Linked DNA regions of Homo sapiens. The protein of the gene in region 1 purifies or fractionates together with the protein of each later gene. This does not show direct contact. Each region holds a gene or a part of one and is shown in the gene's direction. Other genes may lie near its edges.

Region 1 (3,500 bases):
CCCAGCACTTTGGGAGGCTGAGGTGGGCAGATCACTTGACGTCAGGAGTTCGAGACCAGTCTAGCCAACATGGTGAAACCCCATCTTAACTAAAAATACAAAAATTAGGCTGGGTGCGGTGGCTCACGCCTGTAATCCCAGCACTTGGGAGGGCTGAGGCGGGCAGATCACGAGGTCAAGAGATCAAGACCATCCTGGCCAGCACCAACATGGTGAAACCCCATCTCTACTAAAAATACAAAAACTAGCTGGGCATAGTGGCACATGCCTGTAATCCCAGCTACTCGGGAGGCTGAGGCAGGAGTAATCGCTTGAACCGGGGAAGCAGAAGTAGCCATGAGCCGAGATCGTGCCACTGCACTCCAGCCTGGTGACAGAGCGAGACTGTCTCCAAAAAAAAAAAAAAATTAGCCATGCATGCTGGCAGGCGCCTGTAATCCCAGCTGCTCAGGAGCCTGAGGCAGGAGAATCACCTGAACCTGGGAGGTGGAGGTTGCGGTGAGCCGAAATTGTACCACTGCACTCCAGCCTGGGCGACAGAGCGAGACTTCGTCTCAAAAAAAAGAATTGGGGGTTGTGATATCAGCTCCCATGTGTCAAGTACCTATGTGTGCCAGGCTCTAGGCATAGCATGTTGACAATTCATTTTCTCATTGAATCCCCACAACCTCTCCCTTTTTTTTTTTTTTTTTTTTGAGATGGAGTCTCATTGTGTTACCCAGCCGGGAGTGCAGTGGTGCAATCTCGGCTCACTGCAACCTCCGCTTCCCGGGTTCATGTGATTCTCCTGCCTCAGCTTCCCAAGCAGCTGGGATTACAGGTGCACACTGCCACGCCTGGCTAATTTTCGTATTTTTAGTTGAGACAGGGTCTCACCATGTTGCCCAGGCTGGTCTCAAACCCCTGACCTCAAGTTATCAGCCCACTTTGGCCTCCCAAAGTACTGGGATTACAGGTGTGAGCCACTGCGCTTGCCCCACAACCTCCCTGTGATTCCCATTTTATAGATGAGGGCTTCAAGGCTTAGTGAGATGCAGGAACAAACTAAGGTTACCAGCCAGAGCTGGAGGGAGAGCAAGAAGAGAGGGCAGGGTTGAGGGAGGGGTTAGCTTTTCCAAGTAGATGAGGTTTGGGCATGTTCCACTGAAGGGAACGGGCCAGGTAGATGTGCCGGGAGAGAGGAATGCTTGCTGGCATGGCCTTTTTGGGGAGGTGGAGGAGTAGCTTCCAGATCTGATGCAGTTATACCCTTCGGTGGGGAGGCAGGGAGATGGGGGTGTTGTGCCTGAGTCCTCTTTTGACCCTGTTGCTGTAGGACTGTGAGAGGAAGAGTGGAGTAAGAACCTTGGAAAGTGGAGAAAAGTTGCTCCAGTCCAGGCGCGGTGGCTCACACATGTAATCCCAGCACTTTGGGAGGCCGAGGCAGGAGGATCTCTTGAGCCCAGAAGTTCGAGACCAGTCTGGCTAACAACAACAACAAAAAAAGCCAGGCATAGTGGCACATGCCTGTGGTCCCAGCTTCTGGGGAGGCTGAGTCGGGAGGATTGCTTGAGCCTAGGAGGTTGAGGAGGCTGCAGTAAACAGTGATTGTGCCGCTGCACTGTATCCTGGAGACAGAGCAAGCCTCTCGCCTGGGCCTCCCCATGCTGGAAGGCCTTGCCAGAGCTGGGGCCTGGGAGTGAGGGGAGAAGAGGCTGCTGGCTGGCTCCACAGGGTAAAGGTGTGGTGGAATGATGAGGACCTGGGGCTGTGCTGGGACAGGAGAGGGCAAAGTACGGGCCCTGGGGTCTGGGCAGGGTGGAGGAGGAAGTTGGGAAGAGGGTGATGTGCTAGAGGGAAACTGAAGGATGGGAAGTTGAAGGTGCAGTGGGGCAGACTGAATGGACAGTGGGGAATGTTGGAGAGGATGGGGAATCTCCAAGGCGGAGCCATTCTGGGATTGACAAGGCCAGGTGTGTGGCTGCTTGAGGGGAGCTGAGGGTGATTGAAGGGGATCACTGGAGATGCAAGAATCCAGGTAAACAGGCGTGATTGCCAAGTCCCCTGGGGAGGTGGCAGAGGTGGAAGAGGAGAGGAAGATGCAGGCAGCCCCTTGGTGTCTGGATAGTGAGAGGGCACGACAAGGGAGTCTGAGTTACCGAGGACAGAGGAGCCGTGGCTCAGAGCAAGGGGTGCTTAGTGAAGGCTCACTGTGTTTCTTCTCTTTTTTTTTTGAGATGGAGTCTCGCTTTGTCACCAGGCTGGAATGCAGTGGTGCCATCTCGACTTACTGCATCCTCAGCCTCCCAGGTTCAAGTGATTCTCCTGCCTCAGCCTCCCGAGTAGGTGGGACTAAGGCACGCGCCATCACGCCCGCTAATTTTTGTATTTTTAGTAGAGACGGGATTTCACCATGTTGGTCAGGATGGTCTCGATCTCTTGACCTCATGGTCCACCCGCCTCGGCCTCCCAAAGTGCTGGGATTACAGGCGTGAGCCCCCTCGCCCGGCCAGCTCACCGAGTTTCTAATAACCAGAACCAGTTTCAGTCACCACCGTCTTAGTGATTGCCGCCTGGGGATGTTAGTGATGGCCCTGGGGAGGGGCAGGTTATGCAGTAGGAACTGGCTTCTGGGGCCTCGCCCCATGGACCTGAGCGTGGCAGTAGAGCAGTTCTCAGAGGAAGGTGGTGGGAGTCATATTGACTGGGCAGGTGCCCCCAAAAGTTGTCTCCTAAATGAGAGGGATGGGCAGGTTCCCTTTGGGACAGTCGCAGAGGGAAGTGTGTGTGCAGCAGCTGTGCTGGTGGAGGAGTGTGTTCTTCGAGCGAGGCTTCCCGAGGACATGCATGCTGAAGCGTGAGGTGGTCTGTAGGGGGCGCTGCCCCAGCGTGGTGGGGAGGAAGGTGAGAGGAGGCCTGCATGCATCTGGGTCCTCACTGGCTTCCTGGAGTGGGTTGCTGCCACAGGCTGAGACCCCAGCGGGTGTCTAGAGCCTAAGGTGCAGCCAAGAGCCTGGCTCAGGGCGCCAGGGTTGGGAGTGCGGTGGACTCAGGTGAATCGCTGCCTCCTAGGGCCGGGCCTGGTGCCGGCGGCCCTGTTGGCGCTGAGCGGGGAAGCCAGTTGTGAAGCCAGTGAGTCCGTGGGCTGCAGTTCAGAGCATGAGCTCAACCCACATGGCCTGGGAGCAGAGCTTGTTCTGTCATCTGGTAACTGACCACATCTCTGTGCCTCAGTTTTCCTGTCTGTAAGATAGGACCCTCTGCTGGGTACAGTGGCTCACGCCTGTAACCCCAGCACTTTGGGAGGCCGAGGCGGGCAGATCACGAGGTCAAGAGATCGAGACCATCCTGGCCAACATGGTGAAACCCTGCTTCTACTAAAAATACAAAACTTAGCTGGGTGTGGTGGTGCATGCCTGTAGTCCCAGCTACTCGGGAGGCTGAGGCAGGAGAATCGCTTGAACCCGGGAGGCGGAGGTTGCAGTAAGCCGAGATTGCGCCACTGCACTCCCACCTGGCGA
Region 2 (3,500 bases), on another chromosome or scaffold:
TAACAGAAGGCCCGAGTAGAGGAAGCCTCCACCCCAAAGGTCAACAAGCAGGGTCGGAGTGAGGAGATCTCAGAGAGTGAAAGTGAGGAGACCAATGCACCAAAAAAGACCAAAACTGAGGTGGGAAACCCTTGTCGCCATCCTGACCCATCTTGTGACCATTCTTTTCTCAGACTTGCTTATGCTCACTATTCTTAGCTGGATCTCTCCTGGGACATAAGAGAAAGGCCAGATCATAGTGCTTATGAGAGCAGTTCTGTCTATAATATGCCAGAGAGATTCTTAGAGCTTTGACAGACCACCAGATGACCAGGCAGGGCCAAAGGGGACCAGAAGAGTTGGGGGATTCTAGTCTCTGGGTGAGAAGTCTTAGTCGGAGGAACAAATAAATCTTAAGGAAAATGCAGAAGTGGTCTTTCTTTTTTATTGTTTTTTTTTGTTTGTTTGTTTTTGAGACAGTTTCGCTCTGTCACCCAGGCTGGAGTACAGTGGCACAATCTCAGCTCATTGCAACCTCCGCCTCCTGGGTTCAAACAATTGTGCCTCAGCCTCCCGAGTGGCTGGGATTATAGGCATGAGCCACCATGCCCGGCTAATTTTTGTATTTTTGGTAGAGACAGTGTTTCACCATGTTGGCCAGGCTGGTTTGGAACTCCTGGCATCAAGTGATCCGCCCGCTTCAGCTTCCCAAAGTGCTGGGATTACAGGTGTAAGCCTCTGTGCCCGGCCAGAAGTGGTATAAAAACCAAGGGCTTGGGGGATGGAGGATGGTTAAAGTGGTGGTTATGAGATGGTGGAAGACAGGGAGTTGGAGTCAGCTGTGGGTAGAGACAAGGTGCTTGAGATGGATCCTTGAGGAAGGAATAGGGTTTTACAGGCGGGAAACAAGACTGGCTGCTAGGGAGCAGCCAAGAATGTGAGGAAAGTGAGAAATCCCCAGATGGTAAGAGGTGGGCTTGAGCAAGAGTACTCACCACATCACAGTACAACAGTGTGCTGTGAGGGGAAATGATTTTATGCAAGAGAGCCCCAAATCTCAGGGAAGCAGGAAAGGAAAAGAGAAAAAATGAGTCTTCCCTTTTCTACAGCAGGAACTCCCTCGGCCACAGTCTCCCTCCGATCTGGATAGCTTGGACGGGCGGAGCCTTAATGATGATGGCAGCAGCGACCCTAGGGATATCGACCAGGACAACCGAAGCACGTCCCCCAGTATCTACAGCCCTGGAAGTGTGGAGAATGACTCTGACTCATCTTCTGGCCTGTCCCAGGGCCCAGCCCGCCCCTACCACCCACCTCCACTCTTTCCTCCTTCCCCTCAACCGCCAGACAGCACCCCTCGACAGCCAGAGGCTAGCTTTGAACCCCATCCTTCTGTGACACCCACTGGATATCATGCTCCCATGGAGCCCCCCACATCTCGAATGTTCCAGGCTCCTCCTGGGGCCCCTCCCCCTCACCCACAGCTCTATCCTGGGGGCACTGGTGGAGTTTTGTCTGGACCCCCAATGGGTCCCAAGGGGGGAGGGGCTGCCTCATCAGTGGGGGGCCCTAATGGGGGTAAGCAGCACCCCCCACCCACTACTCCCATTTCAGTATCAAGCTCTGGGGCTAGTGGTGCTCCCCCAACAAAGCCGCCTACCACTCCAGTGGGTGGTGGGAACCTACCTTCTGCTCCACCACCAGCCAACTTCCCCCATGTGACACCGAACCTGCCTCCCCCACCTGCCCTGAGACCCCTCAACAATGCATCAGCCTCTCCCCCTGGCCTGGGGGCCCAACCACTACCTGGTCATCTGCCCTCTCCCCACGCCATGGGACAGGGTATGGGTGGACTTCCTCCTGGCCCAGAGAAGGGCCCAACTCTGGCTCCTTCACCCCACTCTCTGCCTCCTGCTTCCTCTTCTGCTCCAGCGCCCCCCATGAGGTTTCCTTATTCATCCTCTAGTAGTAGCTCTGCAGCAGCCTCCTCTTCCAGTTCTTCCTCCTCTTCCTCTGCCTCCCCCTTCCCAGCTTCCCAGGCATTGCCCAGCTACCCCCACTCTTTCCCTCCCCCAACAAGCCTCTCTGTCTCCAATCAGCCCCCCAAGTATACTCAGCCTTCTCTCCCATCCCAGGCTGTGTGGAGCCAGGGTCCCCCACCACCTCCTCCCTATGGCCGCCTCTTAGCCAACAGCAATGCCCATCCAGGCCCCTTCCCTCCCTCTACTGGGGCCCAGTCCACCGCCCACCCACCAGTCTCAACACATCACCATCACCACCAGCAACAGCAACAGCAGCAGCAGCAGCAGCAGCAGCAGCAGCAGCAGCAGCAGCAGCATCACGGAAACTCTGGGCCCCCTCCTCCTGGAGCATTTCCCCACCCACTGGAGGGCGGTAGCTCCCACCACGCACACCCTTACGCCATGTCTCCCTCCCTGGGGTCTCTGAGGCCCTACCCACCAGGGCCAGCACACCTGCCCCCACCTCACAGCCAGGTGTCCTACAGCCAAGCAGGCCCCAATGGCCCTCCAGTCTCTTCCTCTTCCAACTCTTCCTCTTCCACTTCTCAAGGGTCCTACCCATGTTCACACCCCTCCCCTTCCCAGGGCCCTCAAGGGGCGCCCTACCCTTTCCCACCGGTGCCTACGGTCACCACCTCTTCGGCTACCCTTTCCACGGTCATTGCCACCGTGGCTTCCTCGCCAGCAGGCTACAAAACGGCCTCCCCACCTGGGCCCCCACCGTACGGAAAGAGAGCCCCGTCCCCGGGGGCCTACAAGACAGCCACCCCACCCGGATACAAACCCGGGTCGCCTCCCTCCTTCCGAACGGGGACCCCACCGGGCTATCGAGGAACCTCGCCACCTGCAGGCCCAGGGACCTTCAAGCCGGGCTCGCCCACCGTGGGACCTGGGCCCCTGCCACCTGCGGGGCCCTCAGGCCTGCCATCGCTGCCACCACCACCTGCGGCCCCTGCCTCAGGGCCGCCCCTGAGCGCCACGCAGATCAAACAGGAGCCGGCTGAGGAGTATGAGACCCCCGAGAGCCCGGTGCCCCCAGCCCGCAGCCCCTCGCCCCCTCCCAAGGTGGTAGATGTACCCAGCCATGCCAGTCAGTCTGCCAGGTGAGCGGCCAGGTGGGGCGGAGGTGGGCCTGGAAAGGGGACGACGACAAGGCGGCGACGAGAGAGGGAGTAGCAGGGAGGGGCCTTGCGCTGGTGTAGTGTTTTAGAAAAGCACGCCCCTCTCCTCCGTCCAGGCCTAGTGGCCAGTGAGGCCCGCAGCAGCTCACAGCCTGCAGGGGTGGTTTTGAGGCGGGGGCTACAAGCACTCGCCGGGGCCGCGGCGCTGCGGGCTCCATCGGGCAGCTCGCACCGCCTGAGCGCCCGCTGCTTCCACGCCCGGCAGGTTCAACAAACACCTGGATCGCGGCTTCAACTCGTGCGCGCGCAGCGACCTGTACTTCGTGCCACTGGAGGGCTCCAAGCTGGCCAAGAAGCGGGCCGACCTGGTGGAGAAGGT

What was found. The genes of interacting proteins can lie anywhere in the genome.
Region 2: the proteins of SETD1A (region 1) and ATN1 purify together in Homo sapiens (affinity purification with mass spectrometry, with the first as the bait; one large-scale study listed by BioGRID). This does not show direct contact.

What each region holds. Positions count from the first base shown.
Region 1 is NC_000016.10:30,974,754-30,978,253, forward strand, and holds part of SETD1A (histone-lysine N-methyltransferase SETD1A), read left to right. Parts: intron 1-3,500. UniProt on the Homo sapiens protein: Histone methyltransferase that catalyzes methyl group transfer from S-adenosyl-L-methionine to the epsilon-amino group of 'Lys-4' of histone H3 (H3K4) via a non-processive mechanism.
Region 2 is NC_000012.12:6,934,459-6,937,958, forward strand, and holds part of ATN1 (atrophin-1), read left to right. Parts: intron 1-6; coding exon 7-120; intron 121-1,088; coding exon 1,089-3,103; intron 3,104-3,386; coding exon 3,387-3,500. UniProt on the Homo sapiens protein: Transcriptional corepressor. Recruits NR2E1 to repress transcription. Promotes vascular smooth cell (VSMC) migration and orientation. Corepressor of MTG8 transcriptional repression.